3 linked regions of the Homo sapiens genome follow. The protein of the gene in region 3 interacts with the protein of the main gene of each other region in a biochemical or structural test. Each region holds a gene or a part of one and is shown on either strand. Other genes may lie near its edges. The genes, in order: APEX2, UBE2G1 and CUL9.

The links.
Region 1: of the proteins of CUL9 (region 3) and APEX2, one has a biochemical effect on the other in vitro, tested with the Homo sapiens proteins (one study listed by BioGRID).
Region 2: the proteins of CUL9 (region 3) and UBE2G1 form a complex in vitro, tested with the Homo sapiens proteins (one study listed by BioGRID).

The regions. Positions count from the first base shown.
Region 1 is NC_000023.11:54,994,922-55,005,441, reverse strand, and holds the start of APEX2 (DNA-(apurinic or apyrimidinic site) endonuclease 2), read right to left. Parts: upstream 5,080-10,520; 5' UTR 5,020-5,079; coding exon 4,863-5,019; intron 3,897-4,862; coding exon 3,813-3,896; intron 3,192-3,812; coding exon 3,011-3,191; intron 2,481-3,010; coding exon 2,334-2,480; intron 1,644-2,333; coding exon 1,574-1,643; intron 1-1,573. UniProt on the Homo sapiens protein: Functions as a weak apurinic/apyrimidinic (AP) endodeoxyribonuclease in the DNA base excision repair (BER) pathway of DNA lesions induced by oxidative and alkylating agents.
Region 2 is NC_000017.11:4,354,963-4,365,022, reverse strand, and holds part of UBE2G1 (ubiquitin-conjugating enzyme E2 G1), read left to right. Parts: intron 1-10,060. UniProt on the Homo sapiens protein: Accepts ubiquitin from the E1 complex and catalyzes its covalent attachment to other proteins. In vitro catalyzes 'Lys-48'-, as well as 'Lys-63'-linked polyubiquitination. May be involved in degradation of muscle-specific proteins.
Region 3 is NC_000006.12:43,183,458-43,193,517, reverse strand, and holds part of CUL9 (cullin-9), read right to left. Parts: intron 9,217-10,060; 5' UTR 9,208-9,216; coding exon 8,613-9,207; intron 8,063-8,612; coding exon 7,908-8,062; intron 7,564-7,907; coding exon 7,063-7,563; intron 6,559-7,062; coding exon 6,423-6,558; intron 6,273-6,422; coding exon 6,079-6,272; intron 5,806-6,078; coding exon 5,400-5,805; intron 5,326-5,399; exon of another isoform or gene 5,098-5,325; coding exon of another isoform or gene 5,082-5,097; intron 4,996-5,081; coding exon 4,803-4,995; intron 518-4,802; coding exon 310-517; intron 1-309. UniProt on the Homo sapiens protein: Core component of a Cul9-RING ubiquitin-protein ligase complex composed of CUL9 and RBX1. The CUL9-RBX1 complex mediates ubiquitination and subsequent degradation of BIRC5 and is required to maintain microtubule dynamics and genome integrity.

The sequences.
Region 1 (10,520 bases), on a different chromosome or scaffold from region 3:
CTGGTAGAAAGTGGGTATGTTCTGCTATTTTGGAAAGACTGTGTAAGTCATCTGAGCTGGCACTATTAGTTCTCTTTTCCTGGAGGAGAAAATGAAAGAGGTATACATAAGAGATCTAGGATACCTCTGAACTAAGTAGAAAAGGCACAAAGATGTATGATGCTATCACAGGAATCTGAAAGAACACACTGAATGAATGCATAAGAGGAATGAGGCAGGGAGGGACTGAAGGCTCACACTTTGTAGCATTATCTCCGCTCCCCACCACACCACCACCACCATTCTCTCATTCTCTCACTTCTGCTCATTTTCCCAGCTGGGAGCCATATCTACATTTATGTAGCTCTTCTGTGAATTAATCAAGGAATATTCCCACGGTCCCTTCTCTAAGCCAAGCCCAGTGCTGAGTAGGACTGTACCAGCATAAATCACTGATCCCCCATCGTGAGACATAAGGCAAGAAAAGATGAGAGCTGGCTTGTGGATTCTAGGGCAGTGGTTCTCAAGCCTGGCTGCACAATAAAGTCACACTGGGGGCTTTTAGAACGTGCCACTACCCTGGCCCCACACTCGAGAGTTCTGAGTTCATTGATCTGGAGTAGTGCTAAGATATTGATATTTTTGTTCTAATATGCAGTTAGGGGCTGAAAACCATGGGCCTAGGGGAACTTAGAGATAAGAGGTTCATATAACAAAAAGACAGGGAGGGGGTCATGTCCACCAATTCAGGGCACAGTGAGAAAAGCCAGAATGAGAATAACTTTTACAACGGGCCGACAGGAGACAACCTGTCTAGAGAGGACAAAATGTGTAGGGACACTGAAGGTGGAAATAAGAGACAGGTCACAGACCAAGGAGAGCCTTGAATGCTAGGTCTCCATGTTTTCTCTGCATCACAGAGGTAACAGGGAGGTACTGAAAGTTCATAAACAAGAAATACAGTGTATTAAGGAAATGACCAAGGCAATGTGGAATTCACAGTCCTTGAAATCTGACCCCCAACAACTCTCCAGCCCCACCTTCTGCCACTCACCTCCCTTCCTGTGTCACTAAGAAGAAAGGGACTTGTGGTTCCCCATGCACACAATGCAAATTCTCACCTTGAAACCTTTGCCCATGCTAGAATGCTTTCTACTTCAAAGCTCTGTTCTACTCATCTGTTAAGATTCAGCCATTTTCAGCTGCCTGTCCTGATGTCCGAGCTCACCTAGGAATCCCATCTCTGAGCTCCTGTAGCTTTCTGGGATGCCATCTGTGCCTCTGCCCTGAGAATACCATCCTATAATTGGCTAGCCATGTGTCTGTAGCCCACCACCATGCTGGAGAGCTCCTAGGAGCCAAGGGCTGGATCTGACTCCTGAGTCCTCAGTATGTGGCTCAGGGCCAGGCCATGGGCAGAGTCAGTATTGTCTATTGAATGAATGACCAATCCTCAGTACTATAAGAATAGTATTGCAAGCCAAGCTCCGCTTTCCCATAAAGGAAGCTGTCCCTGGGCCAAAAACTCAGGGTTGGTTGGCTGGACAAACAGAATCAGTCAGGAGTGGGGCCAGGCACCTAGAGGGAGCCTTACCAGGTTGACTGCATCCCAGTGGTCAATGGGGCGGTGGGCTGTATTCAGGTCACCCAGAATGATCACATGGCTGAAAAACACAATGTGGGATTGTTAGAAAGGGGTGCAGCAGTCCTGGCCCATATACTTTTTCCTGGGCCCAAGAGCTCAGACAGGCCCTCTCCCATATTGAGGCTTCCTAGCCAACAGCAACTCATAACAGCCTACCTCTCCAATCTTACCACAAACTTGCTGCCTTTCATATCTGACCAACCCAATTCTGATCTCCAAAGGTGACAGTGTTCCATGTTTGACATGACTGCCTCACTAATCAGGAGCCAATGGGCATTTTTCTTGTCCTTCAAAGCTGAGCTCAGATACCACCTCCCCTTGATTGCTCTAACCCACCCTCACTTTCCTGTCCTCCGCTGGAACAAGACTTTCCTTTGCTCCCACGCACTTTACCATTCTCATCTCATTTTACCCTTAAAACTATTGTGTAGGGTAGAGATTCATATATTCATTTGACAAAAGAGAAAACAGAGGCAAGACTAGCCCTAGGGCTCACAATGAGTAAGAGCAGGAGCCTGAATAGGTGCTCAGAGTACAAAACCCATGTTTGTTTTGAGCAGAGCCTATTCAGGTGGGCATATTGGTGTTTGCAACTATGCTGTGAAAGAACTCAGAGACAAAGGGTCCATATCCCTTTCAATGGAGCTTGACACAGGGCTGGGCACCCAGGACCAACTCAAGGAAGCCTTACTGCCCAGGCTTGCAGTACCTGCCTGCCGCCAGGAGGGCTTCTGCTCGGATTTGCAGCAAACGATAGAAGCGCATCTTAAAGACTAGCCGCTCAGGCCTCCCAGGGTCCGCATGGGGGCAGTACACGTTGATTAGGGTCAAGGTCTTCTCCTTACCTTCCCATGTGCTGGAGAAAAGAGAAACCCCCAAAAGGGGTCAGTTTCAAACCTCCCCTTCTGTCCCTTCCCCATACCACATGGCTTCCATTTTGTGACTGTCTGGGATGGAAAAGAAAGGGGTTAAAGAGACACAAATGATCTGGCATGCACAGGACTTGGGGACTGACTACTGATAAGGCAGGGAGAGGGATATCTAAGGATTACCACCAGGTAATGGTGCTGCTATTCACACAGAACACCCAGAAAGACAGCAACCTGGGGCACTGAGTTCAGCACTAAGTTGCTTTTGAGATGTCTATGGTAATAAGAGCTGGATCACTAGGCCAGCCCCACATTGTAGAGATGGAAACTCAAGCTTCAGAGGGGGGAAAAATTTGCCAGGGTCACACACTGAGTAGCCCAGCCAGGACTAAACCAGGAAAGGCAAATTTGGGAACTTCTCCACGGTGCATGTATGTTTACATGGCAAGCCTTAGAATCTTCACACTCAAAGAGTAGCACCAGCAGTGCTCAGTAGCAGGGAGATATGAGCTATTACCGGATCTTATGCTGTGTGAGGAGGGCCCTGCCCTCACTATCCAGAGCCCGGAGTTCCTCTTGGGTAAACTCATCCATGTTTCCATAGCAACCAACATCCCCATTCTGGGTGGCAAACAGGCCACTCAGGCCTTCTTCAGCAGCCACTGGGGTAGCATTGTCCTTACAGAAGGTGGCTACACCTGGGAACAGACAGGGCACTCTGAGCAGACCTGGCAGTCAATAGCCTGTTGCACAGCCTGTCCCACTCCAATTGTCCCCACACAAGTCATCTAAGTCATCTTCATAAAGTGTGGTTCTTGGGCAACCTTATTCAAACCCTGGAGTCTCAGTTCCTACATCTAAAAAAGCCACAGAATGTTCTAAGTGTTTTACATTGATACATGGTGAGTGCTCAAGACGTATTAGCAATTATTATTATCACATGGATTAATTCATTTAATCCTTGTAACAGCCCCGGAAGGTAAACATTATCCTCATTTTCTAGCTGAGGAACCTGAGGCACCAAGAGGTAATGTAACTTGCCAGAGGGTGCACAGCTAGGAAATGAGCCATGATTCAAACCCAGGCTGTCTGGCTCCACAGTTCACACAATTAAGCACCACACTACTACTGTACTTCTGAGGTCCAGTAGGATAATTCTATCCATAAAAATTATATTTCATGTAATTTACTATTATGCAGCTTTAGCTCTGTAAACTAAATGTCTAAGATTTCTTATTACCCTCTCATCAAATATTGGAAACCCTTTTCCCCTATCTGCCTCCCTCACTAATTTAAAGTCCACAGAAAGCCCCATTTACCAGAATAGCCGCTACGGTTGCGGCTGAAGCTGAAATAGGAGTTATAACCCTCAACGATAGCCAGGGGCTCTGTCAGTGCATCCCCTGGAAAAAAAAAATGTAAGATTAAGTCAGAGGTAAAACTAGCATCCGAGAAACACAAAGGCCTGGAATTACAGTTGTAGGCTAATTCCTTGCACACATCAGAGCCAGAGTTGGGGGTGACGGGAATGAAATATCCATGATTAGAGGAGGACCTAGAAAGATGGGAAATGTCAGAGAGGAAATTGATATCAGAATTAGAAGGCTTGGTGGGGGGCGGTTAGAGACTATGAAGTGGAGGTGGAGAATTAGGTGGGAAGGGGAAAGAATCAGAGCTAAGCCTGGGGGTCTGAACGATAGGAGGAAGCTGGGGATGGGGATGGACATACGAGAGGATGGTGGGAATCTGAGCTAAGGGTGAGAGGTAAGAGAGAGGGAATTAGGGGATCTGAACTGGGGGTGGAGGGAAAAGGAATTAGGGGATTCTGAGGGGAGATAAGAGGGTGAAGAAATAAGAGGACATCTAAGCTTGGGGTGGGAAATGAGGTGGGAATTAGGGACTTTCCGCTGGGAGGAGAGATGGGAATAGATAAGGGGTACTGGGGTTCTGAGGTGGAAATGTGAAAAAGAGGAAATTAGACTGAGCTGGGGTCAAAGATGGGGTGGGAATTAGAGGATCTGAGCTTGGGGCAGGGATGAAGAATTCGGGGGTTTGACTTGGCGGCGGGGAGATGGACAGCGTATGGAAGGAGGAAATTCAGGGGACTGAGTTTGGGGCCGGAGAATGAGTGGGAATCTGACTAGATATGGGGTTTCGAGAAGGAGCTAAAGTTTGCTGAAGACAGGAGATGGAGTGCAATTAGGGGATCTAGCTAGGGTGGGAAATGGAAGTTTAAGAGGGAAGGGACCTGGGTCTAAGGACAGGACTCTAAGAATAGGAAACTGGGAAAGTAAAATTACATGGGACAGGGGACAAAAGTTAGCGGGAAAGAAAAAGTATGTAGGGATCCTGGAATCCAGAGCGCTCACTGGTCACTTTGGTTTCCTGGAGACAGACGATATCCGCATCCAGCTCGTCCAAAATGCGCCCCACGGCCACGGCGGCACAGTTGCTGGGTTCCTGATTTGCCACCCCTTGCAGGGGTCTCCGAATCCCATTGATGTTCCAGCTCACCACGCGCAACATCTTAAAGGGCTGGAACACCTCCCAGCCCGCGCCAACCTAGGCGCGAGCGAACTGCTTCCTGTTCAGAAGTTGGCCAGGCCCGCCTCCCGCGCGCGTTTGCGCAGGCGTTCTCGTGCGTACCACTAAAGCGCCTGACGCACGTCGGGCGGGGGCTTCAACTTCCTCAGCTCTCATTGGCGGGAGGAGGAACTGGGTGGACGCTGAAGGAAGCAAAGCGGAAGCCTAGGGGCAATGAATGGCGAGAGGAGTTTCCAGTTGGGCTCCCGCTCCTTCCGCTCGGACAGCTGAGTCTCAATGCGTTTTTCCTCTACTCAGAAGTCCAAGTGGTGCGTCCGGTTACTTACAAACGGCATTTTGCCACTTTTTAAGCGACGGAACCCTGAGCGGAACTGCTCAGCTGCCAAAGCCCCGCCCTCAGTGCGGCGGACCGCCCACCTAAGTTCACAGATGGCTGCAGCGCTTGCGCCCCAGGAATAGCTGGCGCTAAGTGCTCGCGTTGGACTGGGCAAAGGGAAGTTCATGGTTGGAGGAGGGAGCAGTAAGAGTCGCTCCACTGAGATAAGACTTAGGAGGAGGGCCTTTGGCTTTATTGGGGCAGAGGGGAGGAGGAGGAGGCTGTCTCAAGCCTGCCCTGTAGCTTTTGTCTTGGCTCTTAACATTCTGAAGGATGTAGCCGGACACATCCTTACTCTTGGTTCTGTTTCTCAGATAAGTGAAATCGAAGCCCAGGAAATGTAAGCTCGTGAGCAGCATTGTCTCCGGATGCATCCATGGCTCTTCTGTATATGTTATCTCATTTCATTCTCAAGACAACCCAGTTCGGGACATGGAGGCTAAGTTAGAGACGTCGAATGAATTCATTTCATTCTCACAGTTCACTCTCTCTTACACTGAAGTAGTAGAGCCAGGATTCACACCCTGTCTTAATTAGCTCAATAATTACTTTTCTGAGTGTTTTTACTGACCACACACCTCCCCAGTTAAGTCTTTTCCTCTGGGGCCCCACGGCACCCTATGGTCCATTCTGTCACAGTACTTATAATACACAGCTATCATTGACTTCTATTTCTGCTGCCATTAGAATGCCAGCAACTTGAGAGCAATGACCATGTCTGGTTCATCTTGTTAGCCCCATCCCCTAATACTGGACACAGCATATGTTGGGAAGCAATAGATATTTGTCAGGTGAATGAATGAACAAAGGATAATAGCAAGAGCATCGACAGGTTCATGGCTTGTTTTTGAGAGCACAAAAATTAGAAGTAATGGATATGCCCAATGTCCAGGGAAAAGCATAACGATGCATCTTTAGGTTCCTCACCCAGAATTGCAGCATAATTATTTGTTCCCCAGAATTTAAGTCTTAGAGCCATCATCCTCAATGGTTACAGCAAAGACGCAGTAAACTGCTTTTCCTCCTGGAGGACTTAAAAGGTTACCAGTTGTTGCTATCAGAAAATAGCTCTGTGATTAAAATAAAAATTTGCATGTCCTGAGCTTCTTCATGCTTTGGGAGTTATTGACTCAGGATTGACTCCCATGAGTGCGATAACTAGGACAAAGGAAATGAACATTTTTATTGCTCTTGCTTCATATTGCCAGATTGCTTTCCAGTAAGGGATTATGCCCATTTACACTGAAGATCGATCTGAAACTCAGCACCAGCGAAATCCAGAACTTGCCTGTCTCCATGGCTGGTTTTAATTTCCCCATTCTGCAGTGGCTTGTTAATATTAGTTCTGACCTTTGGGGCAAGGTGAACACATGGTTGGACTGAAGAGAAAAGGCTTCTGGTGGCTCAGGAACGTCTTTGGCAACTACAACAGCTGATATTTCAACAGAGCACATACATCCCCCACTTAACAAGGGTACGTCCTCAGCCTTCTCAGGGAACCAACGAACACCTCCAGGCTTCCTCTTTGATGCCACCCACTGGACCTGCCTTGGGGGTCTGTAAATGCAAGAGAACCGAGTGTTGGATAATTAGCGATGGAAGAAAAAACCTCTAGAATAAAAGGTAGGTGAGAAAGAAGGGAAAGTAGGCAGGAGTTGCACAAATCCACATCCATTCTTCAGGCCCTCTGGAAAGTTTTCTTTGCATAGATGGTTGGTTGTCGTGTGCATTAAAGGGCATGGGAAAGTGGGGGAAAAGATTATATCTATATGTAACCTATTTATCTGTCTGTATATTTTTAAAAGTCCATTCTGGCCTTTATGGGACACTGGCCCCCAGGGCAATTCACTAGCACCTGTGAAAGTCTCTCTAACTTGGTCAAGTCTGGTTTTGAATGAACTGAGTGATTGAGATTATAGCTCTTACCTCCCCACTGATGTGTAAAGTAGGGTTGATTTGCTGTGGCGCTTTGAACAAGCTCTCTTGCTTCTCTGGGCATCAGTAGCTTCCTCAGTAAAATGGAAATCAAAGTCTCTAGCCAACGTTCCTCAGAGGGCTGTCACGATCAAGAAGAGTGGAAAGGCAGAAACCAAAGCTCTTTGGAGACATTTCAGGACTTCCTCGCTCTAAGAGTAGTCATCTTGCTTTTTCTATAGGCTCCACAAGCAATCCCACCCAAAACCCTCCAGCTGCTGTGCGACTATAGTCTGTGGAGAGCCACTTCCATGACTAGGATTCAGTGAGGTTTGGGGCCCAGGCATGAGGCCGAAAATAGTGGAGAGATGGTGGGCCAGGACAGTGGGTGAGAAGGAAGGGGATCCTAGGCTGCTGTCACAGAAGGCCTGACACTCATATACATGCACCTAGCTTGTAAGTGTGTGGTCGATCTCCCCTCACACCTTCACTCTCCACAAATGCATTCATACCCAAACAGTCTGAGAGCTACCAATAGGGAGACCCCATTCGTGACTTTATTATCCATCAGCACTGTCATATGCTGCTTTACATGGTATTCTCCCCCGATACACATGCCCTATACTTTGGGAGGGGTATGGGGTCAGGATCTGGGGGCCTTGGGAAATCACATTGTAATCTTTTCTTCCCTAGAGATAGCCCCATTTTAGAATTTTAGACCAAGAGCTGCAGGTCAGAGCTTGATCTTGAATGAGAATCTGGTACTGACTGAACCCTTTCTCTGCCACGAGTTCATTGGCCCTTTTCAGAGAGGACTTCATTCTTTTATCTGTTTCTGTCCCATTCAAGGTAGAGAAACCTTTCTGGATGCCACCTCCTACCTCAGACAAATTAGTTCTCCCATCCAATTCCCTGCACAGCTCTCTGTTATAATATTTACCTTGTTGAACTAGGATTAGTTGTCCACAAGTTCATCTCATCTAGGGCAGAGAGATGTAGACTGCACAAACACAATAAGCAAGTGTCTTCTCTGTCCTCTGTGCCAGGGCCTGAGTTGGACACTGGAAACACAAATTACAGATCACTGAGATCTAGTCTCCATACTCAAGGAGTTCACAGTCTAGTGGGGAAGCAGACCAGGAAAATACTGGTGGATACTTGCTCAGATAGGAGCATGTGGGCAATATAAGAACCAAATACAAGGCCTGTCCCAAGGATACAGGGGTCACTTCCCAGAGGAAGTGAACATCAAACCAGACCTTGAAAAGTGGATCAGATTTTGTTGGGAATAGAAGGAGGAAAATGGCATTTCAGGCTGAGCAAAGGCCAAAAAACAGGAAAATACACCATGTATTTTGGGGCCCAGTGAGTCAGCCAGTGCAGTTTAAGGATGATCTAAGGAGAGATATGGCTGGACAGATAGGCTGAAGCTTGATTGAAAAGTCTTGAGTGCCAAGCTGAGGTCTTTCCATAAAGCTTGTTTTGGTCTCCTGCTTCTGGGATCAGAATTGGTAACAGTAGTGAGGAATCTCATAGCTAATTCCAGGCAATTTTAAGTTAGGCTTTCAAGCCTGGACCCCAGGTTTACCCTTTAAGACTTTGTCAAAAGCCTGCCAGCTTCTTATCTCAGATTTCCTGCTGCTAAAATTATCCTTCTGCCTGTTGGCAGGGCCATGAGGACAAAATTGTAAACATAAAAGAGATGTTCATGTGACCAGCTAGATTACCTTGAACATGCCACTTCCCCTCCCCAGACCTCAGTTTCCCTGTAAGGCTAACAAGGATGTTTGCAAGGATCAAATAAGATAAGGAATATGTTGTTGCTTTGTGGGCAATGGAAAACATACAGGGAAAGGGTTATAATTAAGATTATTAATATTAACAGATTTATACCAGTTAGGAAATTTATTAGAATTAAAAGAGTTGTATCTCTTACAAAGTCTAGTTCTGAGACTCTAGAGGTTCTGAGCTAACCTGTAAGACCACATTCTTAGATCAGGCTTGTTTGATTAATTAAAGAAAAGCCCTGGCCTGGGAGAAATTAGGTCCCTAGTGTTCTATTCCTGACTTGGCCACTGATTTACTACATGACCTTAGGAAAATATTTCTAGACCTCAGTTTTCTTACCTGAGAGGGTGAGATGAAATGATCTTGCAAGTCTTTACACAAAATCAAAAGAGTAAAACCAAATTCATCCTTCTAATTGATTTGCAGGAGCTCTTTGTGTATTATAAATGTTAACCCTTTCCCATAATATTGTAAGTTTCCTTAACTGAGAGTTTTCTGTATGGTCAGCATTATATTAGAAGTTTCAGATTAGTCAAGGAGGTGTCTGATCATTTACCTCCCAAAGGGAGTAACAGTGTTAGATAATATATTTTTAACATTTCACAGATTGCTTTACATTTTTTAACACATTGAATCTTCAACAGTCCTAAGGAGGGTAGGTACTCCTATCATTCCCATGTTCCAGATAAGAAAACTGAAGCACTGAAAAGTTTAGTCTTCTGCTCATTGCCTCATAGCCAACAAGGGGCAGAGGTAGGATTCCACTCAAGAAATATTGCTCCAGAGCCTATTGCTCTTAACCATCATGATCTGCTATCTCAGTTGATTCATTTAGATAGGTGGGCTCTGGAATGTATTAAAAATTTGGTATGATTTATACACAACAACTGGAGGGAATCTGACCCTTGTGTAGACTACGGCTTGCAAATGTATTTTAGGGAACTTCTTAAAAGGCAAAGTGGAACTGAGAGCATTTGAGGGCAGGGATTGGAAATTTCTGTCCCCAAGAGATTGCCCTTGTGTAGCCCAGCTCAGTGGAAGAAAGTTGAGCTTCTTCATAGCCAATCGTTGGAGGTTCATTGGGGGTGGGAAGGTTGCAAAAGAGTGAAGTAAGAGGACACTTGTGCATCTTCGAGGCAAGCTGTGCAGTTCTATGAGTTATACACATAAAAGCCTCAAAACAACGGGTCAGGGGAGCGGGAGAGGGCAGGTGAGAGTGAGTCATCTGGGCTGGATGACTCTGGCCTATGGACTTGTCCTACTTTGAGGCCATTGCTCTCTGTTCCCTGCTGCAGCCTCCACCCTCCTAAATCTCCATCCTAATAGCTTGGCATGAGGAACTTTAGTGAAATTTTCTATCAGTTCATGATGCCAGTGTCATTCTCCTTAGGGCATCTGATGGTGG
Region 2 (10,060 bases), on a different chromosome or scaffold from region 3:
TTTATTATTAGACCATGAGCAAGCAGGTTTGGACAAGTATTAAAGTTCTAGATGCTCAGGGGGAGTTAGCTTGCAGTAAATGGAGAAGTTCTAATGATACTACAGGATACTCATAAAAATTATGTGCTGGAAAAGCACTGAGGCCGGGCGCGCTGGCTCACGCCTGTAATCCCAGCACTTCGGGAGGCCGAGGCTGGCGGATCACCTTAGGACAGGAGTTCAGGGCCAGCCTGGCCAAAGTGGTGAAACCCCCGTCACTACTAAAAATACAAAAAATTATTCGGGCGTGGCGGAGGGCGCCTGTAATCCCAGCTACTCAGGAGGCTGAGGCGGGAGAATTGCTTGAACGCGGGAGGCATCGTTGCAGTGAGCTGAGATCGCGCCATTGCTTTCCAGCCTGGGCAACAGAGCGAGACTCTGTTCAAAAAAAAGAAGGGCCGGGCGCGGTGGCTCACACCTGTAATCCCAGCACTTTGGGAGGCCGAGGCGGGCGGATCACGAGGTCAGGAGATCGAGACCATCCTGGCTAACACGGGGAAACCCTTTCTCTACTAAAAATCCAAAAATTAGCCGGGCGTGGTGGCGGGCGCCTGTAGTCCCAGCTAATCGGGAGGCTGAGGCAGGAGAATGGCGTGAACCCGGGAGGCGGATGTGCAGTGAGCCGAGATGGCGCCACTGCACTCCAGCCTGGGCGACAGAGCGAGACTGTGTCTCAAAAAAAAAAAAAAAGAACTTTATTGCATTTTTTTTTTTTTTTTTGAGGCAGAGTCTCACTCTATTGCCCAGGCTGGAGTGGAGTTGCGCGATCTCGGCTCACTGCAACCTCTGCCTCCTGGGTTCAAGTGATTCTCCTGCCTCAGCCTCCCGAGTAGCTGGGATTACAGGCGCGCGGCACCAAGCTTGGCTAATTTTTTGTATTTTTAGTAGAGATGGGATTTTACCGTGCTGGCTAGGCTGGTCTTGAACTCCTGACCTGGTGATCCGCCTGCCTGGGCCTCCCAAAGTATTGGGATTACAGGCGTGAGCCACCGTGCCCGTCTGCATCTTTTTTTTTTTTTTTTTTTTTTTTTTTGAGACGGAGTCTTACTCTGTTGCCCAGCTGGAGTGCAGTGGCGCAATCTCGGCTCACTGCAAGCTCCGCCTCCCGGGTTCACGCCATTCCCCTGCCTGAGCTTCCCGAGTAGCTGGGACTACAGGCGCCCGCCACCACGCCCGGCTAATTTTTTGTATTTTCAGTAGAGACGGGGTTTCACTGTGTTAGCCAGGATGGTCTTGATCTCCTGACCTCGTGATCCGCCCGTCTCAGCCTCCCAAAGTGCTGGGATTACAGACGTGAGCCACCGGGCCCGGCCTCTCTGAATTCTTACATAATGGAAAAGATAAACATTTAAAAGGTGTGAAAGAAGTTATGCATTACTAAGAAAGTAAAATAAGATAACAATGTCAGCAGCAGCAATGTGTGAAAGGATTTCCTATCCGTTTGTGAACCAGCTCTAGATTTTGATGGTCATCTGGTTCCGTTTTGCACTTTTTTTTGACAATGTATATAGCAAATATTAATAAAACGTCCCAAAGCTCTTTCTTAATGATTGACTTTCTGATGGGGCATACTAAAATACACTTTAAGATAGAGGAGAGAACAATTTAATTTGTATTTTTTCAGGCCTCATTGTAAAGTTACTTAGCTGCAGATTTAAGTTTTCCTGCCTTCTTGATCAGAAACAATGGGATTGTTTTTAATTTTTTTTTAAAATTTGAAGCATGTTAATTAACATGCTCAAAATGTACAAAGTAGTAGGGCAAGGCAAATGAATTTTAATTGAAATGTAAACATATCAAATTTATTGGAAAGATTCGATAACTACACACAGTGAAATAAAAGCCTTGTTTTATTTTATTTTTGAGACAGAGTTTTACTTTGTTGCCCAAACTGGGGTGCAGTGGCGAGATCTTGGCTGACGACAACTTCTGCCTCTGGGTTCAAGTGATTCTCCTGCCTCGGCCTCAGAGTTGCTGGGATTACAGAAGCCCTCCACTGTGTCTGGCCAATTTTTGTATTTTTAGTAGAGACAGGGTTTCACCATGTTGGCCAGGCTGGTCTCGAACTCCTGACTTCAGGTGATCCACCCACCTCGGCCTCCCAAAGTGCTGGAATTACAAGTGTGAGCCACCACCACCTTTCACCCAGACTGGAGCGCAGTGACATAATCTCAGTTCACTGCAACCTCCGCCTCCCAGGTTCAAGCGATTCTGCTGCCCCCTGCGGCCCCCAGTAGCTGAGATTACAGGCATGTACTACCACGCCAGGCTAATTTTTGTATAAAATTTCCAAAAACTTAAAACAACAATGGCTACATTTATTGAACCTCTAGTCTGTCAATCCTTAAGGATTTAAATTAATTACTTGGTAGAATATATCGGGTATGTTTTGTTGATAACATAATGAAGAATCTGGTTACTTTCAGAATTGAACAAAATGGTTCCTTGGGTTGTGGAGTGTCTCAGTCTTGGCGCTACTGACGTTTTGGGTTGAGTATTGTTGTAGGGCCTATTCTGTGCATTATAGATAGAATGTTCAGCAGCATTCGTGGCCTTCACCCACTAGATGCCAGTAGCATACTCCCTTAGTTGTGACAACCATAAATGTCTCCATTGCCAAATGTCTCCTGAGGGACAAAATCATCCCAGATTGAAGATTACTGAGTTAAAATGTTTCAGAGAAGACCATTATGGCTAATTGTTAAGCAAATAAAGACACCTAACAGATTCATGAAATCAGATAGGTTGTGTATTTCTCTGTGGATATTATTAGACTATGACTTACTCCTTTGCAAATTGAGCGGTGGCAATTCAAGTTTTGCAGTGCCTTATGTTAAACACTAAAAAATCCCTCAGCACAGGAGATACTTTTAAAACATTTTATCTTTTGAAAAGGTATTATAAGCATTGGTTAAAAATGCAAAGAGTACAAAAAAACATAGTCTTTTCACCCTGGCCATAAGTTCTTTTTGTGGAAGCAACCCATCATTGACAAATATGTCTTTTTTTTTTTTTTTTTTTTTTGAGACAGTCTTGCTCTGTCGCCCAGGCTGGATTGCAGTGGCCCAGGCTGGAATGCAGTGGCACGATCTCCGCTAAGTGCAACCTCCGCCTCGCGGGTTCAAGCGTTTCTTGTGCCTCAGCCTCCCAAGTAGCTGGGATTACAGGTGTGTGCCACGATGCCCAGGCTTATTTTTTGTATTTTTAGTAGAGACAGGGTTTTTGCCATGTTGGCCAGGCTGGTCTTGAACTCCTGATCTCAGGTGATTCACCCGCCTCAGCTTACGAAAGTGCTGGAATTACAGGCATGAGCCATCATGCCTGGCTGACAAATGTGTCTTTTCAGAGAGGTTCTTGTATGTATGTTTATATAGGCTAACGTTTACTGAGGACTAACATGTACCAGGCACTGTGCTGAGTACTTTATATATTTATTTTATTTTATTTTTATTTTTTTGAGACGGAGTCTCACTCTGTCACCCAGGCTGGAGTGCAGTGGTATAATCTCAGCTCACTGCAATCTCTCCCTCCTGGATTCAAGGGATTATCTTGCCTCAGTCTCTGTAGTAGCTGGGCTTACAGGTGCTGGCCACCATGCCCAGCTAATTTTTGTATTTTTAGTAGAGATGGGGTTTCACCATGTTGGCCAGGCTGGTCTTGAACTCCTGACCTCAAGTGATCTGCCCACCTTGGCCTCCCAAAGTGCTGGGATTACTGGCGTGAGCCACCACCCCTGGCCTCTATTGCATTTTTTTTTTCCCAACACAGAGTCTTGTTCTGTCACCCAGTCTGGAGTGCAGTGGTGCGATCTTGGTTCACTGCAACCTCCGCCTCCTGAGTTCAAGTGATTCTCCTGCTTTAGCCTCCCAAGTAGCTGAGATTACAGGTGTCCACCACCACGCCCAGCTAATTTTTGTAGTTTTAGTTGAGACAGGGTTTCGCCGTGGTGGCCAGGCCGATCTTGAACTCCTGACCTCAGGTGATCTGCCCACCTTGGCCTTCCAAAGTGGTGGGATTTACAGGCAGGAGCCACTGCGCCCAGCCCGTCTATTGCATAGATGTATATTTTTTGAGACGGAGCTTCACTCTTGTTGCCCAGGCTGTAGTGCAATGGCATGATCTAGGCTCACCACAACCTCCGCCTCCCCAGGTTCAAGTGATTCTCCTACCTCAGCCTCCCCAGTAGCTGGGATTACAGGCATGTGCCACTACACCTGGCTAATTTTGTATTTTTAGTAGAGATGGGGTTTCTCCATGTTGGTCAGGCTGGTCTTGAACTCCCGGTCTTAGGCGATCTGCCCGCCTCAGCCTCCCAAAGTGCTGGGATTACAGGCGTGAGCCACTGCGCCGGGCCAGTTTTATTATATAGTTTGTTAATACACATTATATGTTGTGATATTTCCATATATAGTTGTGAAATTAGGTGCATTTATCATTATTTAATAGAGTGGATCTAGGGTGGAAAATCTGATAATCCAGTGACTATCATTATATTGTTGCCTTTTGACTTCCTTTTCTCAGGTGAAGAATGTTTGATTGCACTGTCAAGATGAGTTTCAATCCTTCGCCTCTTTTGGTCTTGGGTACTTCAGTACAATTTTTTTGTTGGCAGGAGGGTACAGTGTGGGCATTCCTTTGCTTTAAGCAAGTAAAGTATTAATTAAGCACTCTTTTAATGAGATCAGTTTGATTTAGGATAAATAATTTGGCATTTCTTAATTATTGAAACCTTTTTTTTAGATTTAAATTTTTGTTAGAATTTAGATGACCTCTAAGGGTGTGTCTAATGTTACCTTTCATTGGTTTGTAGGAAATAACTTTTCAGAGAAGGAAGTGTGGGCTTATGGAAACAAATCTGGCAAGGTAAACATAGTGTAGTTTTATATGGTTAATAGCATTTCAGGTACAGAAAAGTACAAATCAGAAAAAGCAAACATTTTCCAAATTTTGGTAATGAATATGAATTATTGGTATAAACAGATAAATGATAAAGAATAAAATGTAGTTTCAGGAAATAAGATATTTAAATGTTACAATAAAACATTCTAAACTTTTTCCCCCTAGTGCAAGATAGTATTGGGCTAATTTGAGTTAATCAGCAGTTTTTTTTTGTTTGTTTTTTTTTTTTTTTTGAGATGGAGCCTTGTTCTGTCGCCCAGGCTGGAGTATAGTGGCGAGATCTTGGCTCACTGCAGCCTCTGCCTCCCGGGTTCAAGTGATTCTCCTGCCTCAGCCTTCTGAGTAGCTGGGACTACAGGCACACGCCACCACCCCTGGATCATTTTTGTATTTTTAGTAGAGATGGAGTTTCACCATGTTGGCCAGGATGGTCTCCTTGGCCTGCCTTGGCCTCCCAAAGTGTTGGGATTACAGGCGTGAGCCATCGCGCCCGGTCTAATCAGAAGTTTTTATCAGTGCTGTTCCATTGATAGATTCTGGCCCTCATAGAAACTTCTGGAAGAAATACTGTACTGTATTGCTGTTGCTGTAGAGATGTATACCTCTTTTTATAAAGTTATGTTCTAGATTTGCAACAAGTTAATTTTTGTAAGCGGAAATATTTTATTTTACCTTTTATTTAACCTTTATACCCATGTCCAGTGACTTAGAAAAACTGCTATTGCTGTATCTTTGCTTTTTTTCCTTTAGCTATTCTTATTTACTCTTCTATTGGCTAGGGATATGTTAAAAATACAAAAAACAAAGACCTTAAATTTTTACCTGGCAGCTGTTTGTTGTTTGTTTGCTTTAATCTTGTAAAACAAGACTGCTTTTAAGTAAGTTTATCAAATAGGAATTTTTAAAAAAGTTCTTTATGTCAGGAGACACTTTTCCTTTTATCAAATAGGAATTTTTAAAAAAGTTCTTTATGTCAGGAGACACTTTTCCTTTGCTTTTGAATGTACATGCATTTTAATTACATTATCATATTCTTATGTAAGGTATATATTTTCTAGGGTTTCTATGTTAAGACAGAGTAATGCTAGGCAAAGAGTTCTTTTTCCTTTTTTTTTTTTAATTTTATTTTTTTGAGATGGAGTTTCGCTCTTGTTGCCCAGGCTTAAGTGCAGTGGCACGATCTCGGCTCACCGCAACTTCTTGCCACCTGGGTTCAAGCGATTCTCCCACTGCAGCCTCCCGAGTAGCTGAGATTACAGGCATGGGCCACCACACCCAGCTAATTTTGTATTTTTAATAGAGACAGGGTTTCTCTATATTAGTCAGGCTGGTCTTGAACTCCTGACCTCAGGTGATCCACCTGCTTCAGCCTCCCAAAGTGCTGGGATTACAGGCGTGAGCCACGCGCCCAGCCAAGTTCTTTTTCAACTTGATGCCAAAAGCATGAGCCATAAAAGGAAATATTAGTAAACTGGACATCATGAAAATTAAGAATTTTTACCTGATTAAAGACTGTTAAGAGGATGCAAAGACAAGCTACAAACTGGAAGAACATTTGCAAATCACATATCTGGCAACTGATTGTATCTAGAATATTTAAAGAACCCTCAACAGTTTAAAAAAAAAAAGTCAATTCAAAAAAATGGGCAAAATTAGACAGGTGTGGTGGCTCTCATCTGTAGTTTCAGCTACTAGGGAGGCTTGAATAGGAGCATCGCTTGAGATGGGGATTTTGAGGCGGCAGTGAGCTGTGACTTCACCACCGCTACACTCCAGCCTGGGCCACAGAGCAAGGCCCTGCCTAAAAAATAAGGGCAAAAGACACCAAGAAACATTTCACTGAAGAGGACATACAAATAGCAAACAAGTGACAACATGTTCAACATTATTAGACATCAGGGAAATGCAAATTGAAATCACCGTAAGATATCACTACTTACCTGTTAGAATAGTTAAAATTAAAAAAACTGTAACACTAAATGCTGCCAGGGACTTGGAGAAACTTGAACTTTTATACATTGCTGGTGGGAATGTATAATTGTATATCCACTATAGATAGAAAACAGCTTGCTTTTTTTTTTCTTTTTTAAGAGACAGGGTCTCTCTCTCTTTGTGTCTACATATATCTTTTAAAAATTTTTTATAAAAATAGAGATGGGGTCTTGCTGTGTTGCCCAGGCTGGTTTTGAACTCCTGGGCTCAAGCAGTCCTCCTGTCTTGGCCTCCCAGAATGTTGGGATTACAGGTGTGAGCCACCACATCCAGTCTATTTTTTTTGTTTTTTTTGAGACAGAGTTCCGCTCTTGTTGCCCAGGCTGGAGTGCAGTGGTGGGATCTTGGCTAGATTGTCCTTCTTTATGGGTGGTCTTGGCACCTTTGTATAAAATTCTTGAAATGACAGAATTACAGTGATGGAGAATAGTGGTGTTCAGGGATTTAGGGACATGAGGGATATGTGGTATACAGTAACATGAGGGATCTTTGTGGTGATGAACAGTCTTGTATCTTGATAGTGATTACACACATCTGCAAATGTGATAAAATTGCATAGAGTTATACACCCACCCCCCCCCCCCACACACACACACACACAACCGAGTGATGACATCTGAATACAGTAGTCCTCCCTTATCTGCATGGGATAAATACTTTCCAAGACCTCCAGGGGATGCCTGAAACCACTGATAGTCCTGAACCTTGTGCTTTCTCCTATATATGCATACCTATGATAGGATTTAATTTATGTTAGTCTAACAACAATAATAACACAGAGCAATGATAACAATATGCCGGCATTACTACTCTTGCACTCTGGGGCCATTATTAAGTAAAATAAGGGTTACTTGAAACCAGGCACTGCTAAGTGATAGGCAGGAGGGACAGTGTGAGATTTCATCATGCTACTTAGAACAACACAAAATTTACAACTTAGGAATTGTTTATTTTTTCTGTTATTTTCCATTTAATATTTTCAGACTGGGCTTGACCACAAGTAATTGAAAATGCCGATGGGGCAGGGGTGGGGGGACTATAAAGTATATGGATTGCACCACTGTCGATTTCTTGGGTTTGATATTGTGCTAGAGTTATACAGGGTGTTAGCATTTGGGAGAAACTGGGTAAAGGTTACAGGAAACCTTTCTGTACAGTTCCCCCTTGTCCTATGGGACTGTATTTCAGAATAAGAAGTTTTTAAAAAAAGTCACCTGTAACCATGCATTATTATCAATCCTTTTTCAAATAAAGAACTTAATATTTGTAGTTATAAATACAACTACATGGTTGCTCTATTAACATGTTCAAGGAACAGGAAGTTGAAATAGAGAAACCTGTAGTTTAAGACAGAAATTCCGTCTTAATTTTATTTTTTTGTTATTATTTTTGAGACAAAGTCTTGCTGTGTTGCTCAGGCTGGTCTTGAACTCCTGGACTCAAGCAATCCTCTTGGCTTGGCCTCCCAGAGTGCTGGGATTACAGGCATGAGCCACCACGCACAGCTACCATCCTAATTTTAAATAGCAGTCTTCATTTAAACTTGTGTGGTTGCTTGGAAAATGGAATAAAGGATCAGCATAAAAGTTTATTTATTGAGCCCTTATATGCCGTTGTATTGAGATGCTGCGGGAACGCAAAGGTAATTGATGTGATATCCCTACCTTGAGGTGCTACATTTAGTAGCACTATGTAAACAACGTTTTTTATTTATTTATTTATTTAATTTTTTTTTTGAGACAGTTTCGCTCTTGTCGCCCAGGCTGAAGTGCAGTAGCACCATCTCGGCTCACTGCAACCTCTGCCTCCTGGGTTCAAGCGATTCTCCTGCCTCAGCCTCCCGAGTAGCTGGGGTTACAGGCGTGTGCCACCAGGCACAGCTAGTTTTTTGTATTTTTTAGTAGAGACGGGGTTTCTCCACGTTGGTCAGGCTGTTCTCGAACTCCTGACCTCAGGTGATCTGCCCGCTTCAGCCTCCCAAAGTGCTGGGATTACAGGCGTAAGCCACCGTGCCTGGCCTTTTTTTTTTTTTTTTTTTTTTTTAAAGTGAAACAAGTTTATTAAGAAAGTAAAGGAATAAAGACTGGCTACTCTGCCAGGTGCAGTGGCTCTCGTCTGTAATCCCAGTACTTTGGGAGGCCGAGGCGGGCGGATCACCTGAGGTTGGGAGTTTGAGACCAGCCTGACCAACATGGAGAAACCCCATCTCTACTAGAAATACAAAATTAGCTGGGTGTGGTGGTGCACACCTGTAATCCCAGCTACTCAGGAGGCTGAGGCGGGAGAATCGCTTGAACCCGCGAGGTGGAGGTTGCAGCGAGCTGAGATCATGCCACTGCACTCCAGCCTGGGGAACAAGAAATTCCGTCTCAGAAAAAAAAAAAAAGAATGGCTACTCCATAGGCAGAGCAGCCAGTAGTAAATGAATTTTTTTTTTCTTTTTTTTTTTTGAGATGGAGTTTCACTCTTGTTGCCCAGGCTGGAGTGTAGTGGCACGATCTCAGCCCACCGCAACCTCGGCCTCCCAGGTTCAAGCGATTCTCCCGCCTCAGCCTCAGAAGTAGCTGGGACTACAGGCGTGTGCCACCACAACCGGCTAATTTTTGTATTTTTAGTAGAAATGTTGTTTCACCATGCTGGCCATGGCTAGTCTTAAACTCCTGACCTCAGGTGATACACCCGCCTCGGCCTCCCAAAGTGCTGGGATTATAGGCTTGAGCCATCGCTCCCAGCCAGTAAATGAATTTCTAAGGAAATAGTCTGGCAGGCCGGGCTTAGTGACTCATGCCTGTAATCCCAGAGTGACTCACGCCTGTAATCCCAGAACTTTGGGAGGCCGAGGCAGGTGGATCACCTGAGGTCAGGAGTTTGAGATAAGCCATGGCCAACATGGTGAAACCCCATTTCTACTAAGAATACAAAAATTAGCTGGTCGTGGTTGCACATGCCTGTAGTCCCAGTTGCTTGTGAGGCAAATCACATCAAATCTTTGTTTTGTTTTGAGACAGGGTCTTGCTCTGTTGTCCGGACTAGAGTGCAGTGGCAACATCAAGGCCCGCTGCACCCTCCACTTCCTCGGCTCAAGCAATCCTCCTCCCTCCCTCCCTATAGCTGGGACTATAGGCATGCA
Region 3 (10,060 bases):
TTATGCCTGTAATCTCAGCACTTTGGGAGGCTGAGGTGGGAGGATCACGTGAGCCCAGGAGTTCAAGATCAGTCTGGGCAACATAGCAAGATCCTGTCTCCAACAAAAATAACCCCAAAACTCCCTTTTCCCTTTTTCCAAACACTTAATCCCGAAGAATGTCCAGATCAAACTCTTAAAACCATCTGCATCTTTCCATTCCAAAGTCTACTCACTGATCTGAAGCACCAAAGTACCCCCTCAAGATCAGTAGTCCCCAGTCTGCCTGTCTTGCCCATTGTTCTCTCCCGCCAGGCCCAATGTACTCACCGCCAGCCCAGCCTGCTGCACCAAGACAGAAGTCTTATATTCTTGCATGCAGACCAGCACAGCATAGATGCCACCCTCCCTGGCAAAGAGCGGCCGCCACTCGTGCTTGGTCATGAGCAGGTAAAGGAGGCGCAGGGCCTGCACGACCACCATCTTCTCTCCCACCTGGTTGGTCAGCAGCTCCACCAGCATCTTCACTAGCTTCTCTCTGACAAGAGAAGAGATATTGGGGCTCCCCATCCCAAGGAGTCTTGCCTGACCTCCCAGCCATGGCACCGTCGGACTCCCTGACCAATCCCATCCACCAAGATCTAGTCCATCCTCTCTGCCCCACCCAAACCTGCTCTCCTGGCTTCAGTCTCACCCCAATCCCCTCCCCTCTGCAGCCTAACTGCCTCTGGCTCCTCGGCTAATGAAGGAGGCATTAGAAAAAATGTTTATAAACTCTGGCTCACCTTTTCAAATAAATCTATAAATTCAAAGTGATACTAATCAAAATGCCTAAAAGGTGGTTTTGTTTGTCTTTTCGTTTTTGAGATGGAGTCTTGCTCTGTTGCCAGGCTGGAGTGCAATGGCGCGATCTCAGCTCACTGCAACCTCTGCCTCCTGGGTTTACGTGATTCTCAAGCCTCAGCCTCTTGAGTAGCTGGGACTACAGGTGCGTGCTACCACGCCCAGCTAATTTTTTGTATTGTTTTTCAGTAGAGACGGGGTTTCGCTATGTTTCCCAGACTGGTCTCGAACTCCTGGCCTCAAGCAGTGTACTTGCCTTGGCCTCGCAAAGTGCTGGCCTAAAAGGTTTTTAAAAACACCACAACAGGCAGATCCAAGCCTTGGAAATGTTGAGAAAAAAATAGTGGTAGTCAGGTGCAGCAGCTCATGCCTGTAATCCCAGCACTTTGAGAGGCTGAGGCAGGTAAATTGCTTGAGCCCATGGCTTTTGCCATGGGCAACATGGCAAAACCCCATCTCTACAAAAAATTATCTGGCATAGTGACCTGTGCCTGTAGTCTCAGGTACTTGGGAGGCTGAGGTGGGAGGATCATCTGAGCCTGGGAGGTCGAGGCAGCAGCAAGCTGTGATCATGCCACTGCACTCCAGCCTGGCTGACAGAGTGAGACCCTGTCTCAAAAAAAAAAAAAAAAAAAAGAGAAAAGGGGTAGGCTTGCCTATTATTATCAAAATATAAATATAAACTTGTAATAACTACAACCCTGGAACTGACATAGGGTAGCTAAATAGATCAATAGATGAGAAGAGAGATAAGGGTGGTGTATAAGCCAGCAAAAAAAAAAAAAGGAAGAACCATTTAAAATATAATGTTGTCTGGGCACAGTGACACACACCTGTAATCCCAGCACTTTGGGAGACTGAGGTAGGTGGATCACTTGAGGTCAGGAGTTCGAGACCAATGTGGCCAACATGGTAAAACCCCATCTCTACTAAAAATACAAAAATTAGCCAGGCGTGGTGGTGCAGGCCTGTAATCCCAGCTATTCAGGAGGCTGAGGCAGGAGAATCGCTTGAACCCAGGAGGCGGAGGTTGCAGTGAGCCGAGATTGCACTGCTGCACTCCAGCCTGGGCGACAAAGCAAGACTCTGTCTCAAAATTAATTAATTAATTATTGACTGAGGCCTTGCTTGAGGCCAAGAGTTTGAAACCAGCCTGGGCAACATAGTGAGACCCCATCTCTACAAAAAGTAAAAAAAAAAAAAAAAAAAAAAAATTAGCTGGGTGTGGTGGCTCATTCCTGTAGTCCCAGATACTTGGGAGGATAAGCAAGAAGGGTTGCTAGAGGCTAAGAGTTTGAGGCTGTAGTGAGCTATGTGATCTTGCTATTGCACTCCAGCCCGGTCAACAGACTGAGACCCTGTCTCTGAAAAACAAAAAAACAAACAAAAAAAAAAACAACACGCACACACACACACACACACACACACACACACACACACACAATGCAATTTAGAGACACCTGGCTATCCATATGAAAACACTGAAGCTGGAGCTCTATTTCACAACATTTGCAAAAATAAACTGCAAATGAATTTTTAAATAAATTTAAAAAAAACAAAATCATGGGTATTTTTGGAAAATATAGGAAAATATTTTTATAATTCTGGAACAGAATAGATCCTTTTAAGTAGGACACAAAATCTAGAAGCCATAAAAAAGCTGAAAAATGTAGCAACAAAAAGTCTGAAACTCTAGCATGATGAAAAAAACACTATACACAAAATTACGAGACAAGCGCAGGAGCTAGAGAAAGGGGCCAGTGGAAATGCTGATCTAAAAGAAGAGGAAGAAGTGCCTCTAGAGTCCCTAGATCACGGTGAGGGTCAGGAGAGAAAATAGCAGGTATTGACTCTTGCTTAACAGTGACAGTGAGGCCAACTGAGGAGGTGGCTCGGGAACTACGAGGGGAAAGAACACAGAAGGAGAACTTCTGGGAAAGTTCTGTTTTTAATCTATCTTTTCTAAGAAGTTTAATAATGACAACAGTGTGAATGAAATATGCTTGAAATACATATCCCCTTCCATGGCCATGATTTATTATATACCAGATAATATACATGGGTAATACATATGACTAGAGAAATAAGTAAGGATGTTTACCAACATGTTAATAGTGATTGTCTCTGTCTTAATGGCTTTCAGATTTTTTTTCTGTCAATCTCACTTGAATATGATCAGATAATTTTTATTTTAATAATTTTCTAACTTTTTTACCATATGTATTATTCTATAACCAAAAAATAGAGCTAAGATGATTTTTAAAAAGACAAGCAAAATATCTGGAACATAAATAACAAAGGAATAACCAAAATGCCTATAAATACATTAAAAAAGGCAAAGATCCAATTAAAAAGTGGGCAAAGGATAATAACAGAATATTTATAGAAAAAAAAAAACAGAACAAATGTATGCAAATGTGCCTAACTTTACCAGAACTAGGAAATTAAAACAAAGAGATACCAATCATTTAAAATGCTGCCAATTAGATAGATTAAAAAAGACGACAATATTCAGTGTTGGCAGACGTAAGGAAAAACAGACGCGTTAGAACACTGCACTTGAAACTGGAGATAACCACACTGCAGGGTCCCATGCAGCAGTAAAAATAATGAGGCAGCTCCACCCAGACTGATATGGAAAGCCCTCTAAGACACTGAGCGGGGGCAAAAAAAAAAAAGTTGTAGAAACATGTAGAATGTGATTACATAGACTAAAACAAAGACTCAGAAAATGCTCTATTTCCAAACACACAATTACAAATGCAAATCTGTAGGATATAGTAGACTGATAACAGTGGTGAGAAAGGACTTTGGCCCTCCTATGTCCTTTTACATTCTTCAGATCTTTTAAAATGAGAATGCGGCTGGGCATGGTGGCTCACACCTGTAATCCCAGCACTTTGGGAGACTGGATCATCTGAGGTTAGGAGTTCGAGACCAGCCTGGCCAACAGGGTGAAACCCCGTCTCTACTAAAATACAAAAATTAGCTGGGCCTGGTGGTGGGCACCTGTAATCCCAGCTACTTGGGAGGCTGAGACATAAGAACTGCTTGAACCCAGGAGGCGGAGGTTGCAGTGAGCCAAGATCACACTATTGCACTCTAGCCTGGGTGACAGAGTGAGACTCTGTCTCAAAAACAAGTAAATAAATAAAAATAAATAAATAGAATGAGAATAAGTTGTGTGTTATTTGTATAATTTAAAAGTAGAGGGCTGGACGCGGTGGCTCACGCCTGCAATCCCAGCACTTTGGGAGGCCGAGGCAGGCAGATCACGAGGTCAGAAGATCGAGACCATCCTGGCAAACATGATGAAACCCTGTCTCTACTAAAAGTACAAAAATTAGCTGGGTGTGGTGGTGCCTGTAATCCCAGCTACTTGGGAGGCTGAGGCGGGAGAATCCCTTGAACCCGGGAGGCAGAGGTTGCAGTGAGCCGAGATCGCGCCACTGCACTCCAGCATGACGACATAGCAAGACTGTCTCAAAAATAAATAAATAAAGGTAGAAAAAAATTTAAAATAAAGTAGGTTTTAAGGTCTAATGTGAAAAAAAAAAAGTACGTAGGGACAGAAAAAAAAGAAAAAGAAAGAGAAAAAACTCCAGTTCTAGAGCCAAAAAGACCTAGGTTTGAATCCTGGCTCTGCTATCTGTAAAACTCTAAGCAAGTTACTTAAATTCTCTAAGCTTCAGTTTCCTCACCCATATAGTAGGATAATAATATTACCAACGCTTCCTCAGGTGTTAGGTGGATTTAATGAGAGAATGCATGTAAAATACTAGCACAGTGCCTGGCATAACAGAAGTGCTCCAAGAATACGAGCCATTAAAACATCCAACCCTCCTGCTCGGCTGCTCCTCAGGCTGAGCCTTCCCTCACCCCAAGCTTTTCTAATTCGTGATCTCAAAGCTCCTTCCCCGCTACCACCATCCTTTGCCTACAGCTTCAACCAAAACCTCTTCCCTCCCCAGTATGCTAACCTCAGCGATCTGTCAGGACGGACCAGAGGGTGGTCCCGCTCAGTGACCTCCTCCACAGCCTGAGAGAGGGCAGAGAGCCCTGAAAGCTGCAGGTTTGTGTCCAAGCTGGATATCTGCACAGTGGCCACGACCGCTGCCACATGCTGATCCAGGGAGCTGCGAGGACCGGGACCCCGCAAGGCTCTGGCCATTTCTGAAATTGGTGGGAAAAGGCAATGGCTAAAAGAACTGTGGCACCTTGAAGTTAGAAGTCTTTAAAGTCAAGCCCAGTTATCCTACCAATATTTAAACACATTATCGGCTACTGCAGCTTGCAGAGTTTTCCAATTCTGTGTCAGGGATCTAATGATCAAACAAAGGAGATGAAGACACCCCAGAAAACGGATCCTCCTTTTCCAGAGATACTGAAGGAAGGGAGCGCTGGTTAATTAAATACAATCAAGGTCAAAAGGAAGAAGATGGACGCATGGTTCCAAGGCATTTTCCCCTGCAAAAATCACCTTCCTCCATGGCTTTCCTTCGATCCTGACTATCCATTTCTTCTACTGAGACTACCCAGGACTTGTTCCAATTGCTTCCTCCCAGAACCTGACTCACCACTGGCTGCCTCCTTCATCTCAGTGGGCAGGGTCATCCCCTCAGTCACCAGAAGCTGGTTAAACAGCTGAGAATCACTCTGTGCCATGGGGGTCTCGGTCCTTGTCTTGGTGGGCTCGGCCTCTGTCTTAGGGGCCTCGGCCTTTGCTTTGAGGGACTCAGTCTCTTCCTCTGAGAAGCTGGCCTCCGACTTGGACTCCTCTTCTGGATCTGGGGTACAGGAGTGATTTCGTGAAGTAGACGAGCTGCTTGGTTCATTAGACAGCAGCCCATACTTGGTGTAGATCTGGGAGTTGAGCAGGTCATTGAGAGTGCTGCCCTCAAATCGACTACTGAGAACCTGCAGCAGACTCTCGGCCATTTCCACGGACACAGAGATCTCACCTAGGGCCTTTTCACCCAGGGTCTGTCAACAGAAGGGGTATACGTTTAAGAGACAAGCAGACACAAAGGTCTTGGGGTCAGTAATGGGAAGGGTGATCACTCCCTACCATGCCCCCACACCTTCTACATACTAGACCCTCACAGCACTTGCCTCCAACCCCCAGCAGGACTCCTCCTAACTCTAATCTCTAGCTCCAGCCTCCCCCTAAGCGGTAACCCCTATCTGAAACTCCCTCTAGAGAATCCCACCTCTAACCCTACTAGAAAACCCCCAGGTATCTCAGACCTATAATACCTCATCCAGGTTCTTCCAAAGATTCTGGAAAATTGGCTGCTGCTCACACAAGTCCAACTTTTTGATAAAGAAAAGCAGCTCCCACCATTCAGCCTGGGTCAGATATCCCACTCTCTCATTCTTCTGAGGTTCGGGCTGGAGGTACGGCAAAGGGTACAGCCCATCCATAGGATTCCAGTCCCAGGAGGGAAATGCTGAGGACACAGGCATGGCGGGCATCAGCACCCCTCAGGAATGGGGTCTATTTCTGGACCCCTAGGGCTGCTCCTGGTCAGAAGTGGCTTCATCCCAGTCACTAATCCTCTGTTCAGAGACATGCTATCCATGTCCCCTCTTAGGCTCACCTGTGCCCAACACAGTAGCCCCTGCCCCCTTCTCCACAGCTGCTGAAGCCTTATCCTCAGTGGCTTCCTCAGGGCCCAGGATCTCCAGCATGTGCCAGTGCACCCAGTAAGTGCGGCCTGTCGACTGCCAGAAAACCTGGTATGAGGGAGGAAGAAAGAGAGCAGAATAGAGAAGGCTCAACCCTCTGAGCCTTGGCCTGTGAAGGCTTGAAAGGACATGCCCAAGCATAGATCTGGGGCGCACCCTCAGATACACACCTGGCTAAGCCTGGAAAAACCCCCATATGGCAAAAGGCTTCCTTCCCTTATCAGGAGTGGGCCCTGCCTCTTTTCTTAACCATGATTCTCTGCCTCGACATTCCTTCCTAGCCTCTTCCACTGGTGTTGGTGGGGAGGTATCTCCATTTATCAGTTCTGCTTCCTGGGTGAGTCTCCCATGAACTTACAGCCCACCCACACCCCTGCCAGATTTTCTCAGCCCTCCAAATGCACCCCGCACAAATGCCAACCCCCTTGTATCATTCCAATTCCCCAGGGGGGTTCTTCTTGGGTGGCCTGCAGGAGTCCTCCTTATGAAGTCCCAGCTACACCCCACCCCAAATAAACTCCCAACAGTGTCTCACCACCATGTGCTGCCCACCTGCACAGGGGGAATGCCGTTGTTGCTCTGCCGGAACTCGCCCTCGTCCCCAGCACTGATCTCCTCATAATCATCCAGCATCCGCACTCGCATCCCTGGCTGCAGTGTCTGCTGCACATATTCTCCATAGCCACTACGGCTGGAGAATTCAGAGCGCTGGCGGAAGACCCACCCTTGTCTTCTGGGGGTGGTGACAATGGTGGGGAGTAAAAGGCTGGGGCCTGAAATGTAGGGCTGAAAGATGGACCGGGTTGGCCGGGGAGGTGACATGCCCTGTTCGCTGAGGTTCCGGGCCCAGCCCATGCTCCGCACAAGCTCAGAGATGAGGTTGCCCACAGCCATGCTGAACTCCAGTTCCCGCTGTCCCCGGCTTTTCTCTCTTGTGGCACATGGGGAGCTTTGGTCTCCAGCTCCCAGCTCTGGACTGCTATTCAGCTGATCCAGGAGGGACGTGACACAAAGGTAGCGCTTCACCAAGGAGAAAAGCAGCTTTCCTGGGATCTGTAAGACACAATCCTTGGGACAGGTTCATCTCTTCCTGGCTTTAGCCTCTCCCCTTCCCTGAAGTATCCTCCTCTACAGAAAAATATAAAGGCCTTCTCCCCAGGCCTGTAGTTCTGAAACTTTGATTTGTGTAAGAAAGGCATAGGGAGTGTCTTAAAACACAGATTCCTGGGTTCTCATCTCAGAAATTCTGAATGGAGAGGGGCTGGGAGGGAGGACATGAACCTTCATGTTAACAAGTTCCCAGGTGGCTCTGGTGCTAACATTCAGTCCTGAACCACGTTTTCATAAATAATGTCTTAGCCCTTGTACACAGCATTTCCCTACAGCTGGCAGTGTACCTGAGGCAGATGAATGCCCTCAAAGGCCATGCAGTGTTCTTCAGAGGATGTGGTTTCTGCAAACAGCTCCAGCAATGTATAGCGACTGTCAAAATCCATGTGCTGCTCGATGCCATCTTGCTGGCTCAGTGATAGAAGGACGTGAGCCCGACTCCCTGTAATCCATACCCAATCCATATCTTCTCCTCAATCCCCAGTACTTTCTCCCTGCCTTTCCTAGATTCTATCTCCTACCCCAGACGCTTTCAAACTTTGTTACTAAGGCTCACAGAAAGAAATACATTTTACATGGTAACCTGTTACAAACATACATACATATAACTGAAACATATATTTTATGCTACAAAATTTACCCCTACTAAGTGCTACACACTAATGACTTAAGTTTTTAAAAAAATGTTGGTTGTAACCCACCAAATTGATTTCAAAACCAACTAATAAATCTCAATCCAGTTTCAAAAATACAGATAAGTCCTATTCTCTTCTCTGGTCAATGCACTGAGAATGAACAGATAAGCCAGAGGCTATCATTTTAGCCTCTTTATATACCTGAAATAGCCTATTAATCTATATTTTTTCCTTTGCATCAAATTGATATTCACCAAATACTAGGTGTTCTTACAGAGCTAGGAAATCTCTCCTCTTTCTTATTCCCTGTGGCCCCATTTTCTCCATTCCTTTCCTTCTTCCCTGGCTGTCTCTTACCAGCATCGTGGGCTGCCAGAGCCTGCAGCATTTTGCCTGCACTCCGGCGGATCTGAGGCTCAGGATTGCATAACATGTGCATGAGCAGGTCCAGGGCTCCTGTCTCCCTGAAGACACCAGTGAGGGGCCCGATGCTGGCGTAGGCACTGAGCACGTGGATGGTGTGAAGCACAGCGGCCGTGAGGCTTGGGGTCCCACTTTCTGCCAGCTGCCTGGCCGCCCTGCGTACCAGCGCCTGAACATCAGCCTCCATCTCTCCCATTGCCACTTCATCCAGGCCTCCTGGATCTCGAGGAAAGCTTCCTGAAACCCCAGCTGGTTCGTGCTGAAGTCCCTTAGATAGTGCCCGCTCACCTAACAGCCCAGGGCAGTTGGCGTAGACCTCAGGAGCCGACAGCCACATGAGGATGTGCTCTGCTTTGCCTTCTTCCACACCCACTTTGCCCACTTCCCCACACTTCAGGACACTCCATCGGATCAGGTATTCAGGATGCCCGTCATGCCCAGGCCTCTGTCGAATGAGTTCTTCAGGATATGCCTGCAGCCGAGGCCCTAAGGGCACCATGAGGTCCCCAGCATGCCGTTCCCCCACCATCCTGACCTCCTGGGATACACAAGGAGAAAGATAAGGCAGTATGAGAAAAGAAAAAAAATACATGGAGGGGGTGGAATCTTGAGACACAGAGAAGGTGGGTGGTGATCGGTAGGCTGCATGGTAGAATTTAGGAGGCCAAACAGAAAAGGCAAAAAATAGGATGGAATAAATAGCTGAACATACTTTGGGATTTATAACAGAAGGAGAATGGAGTGAAGACAGAGAGGGGATGAAGAAGGGGTTTAAGAAATGGAAGAGTTGGCTGCGCCCAGTGGCTCACGCCTGTAATCCCAGCACTTTAGGAGGCCAAGGTGGGCAGATCACGAGGTCAGGAATTCAAGTCCAGCCTGGTCAACATAGTGAAACCCCGTCTCTACTAAAAATACAAAAATTAGCCAGGTGTGGTGGCACATGCCCGTAGTCCCAGCTACTCAGGAGGCTGAGGCAGGAGAATCACTTGAACCCAGGAGGCGGAGGTTGCAGTGAGCCAAGACCGCGCCACTGTACTCCAGCCTGGGCAACAGAGTGAGATTCTGTCAAAAAAAAGAAAAAAAGAAAGAAAGAGAGAGAGAGGAAGGAAGGAAGGAAGGAAGGAAGGAAGGAAGAAAGGAAGGAAGGGGAGTTTACAAAAAGAGAATTAAAACAGTAATAGGCAAAGTAACAATAAACAGAGTGACAGTTAAGCAAGACAGTTTAGGCAGGATAGCAGGGTGGCTGAGGGTTACAGATTAGGACTTAGAAGAATGACATGGGTGGACAGGAAGGACAGCAGCATGTGAGGCAGTGGGATCAGAACATGTGAGGAAAAGTAGGATAGCGGAGGGGCAGGACAGGGAGCATAAATGACAGAGTA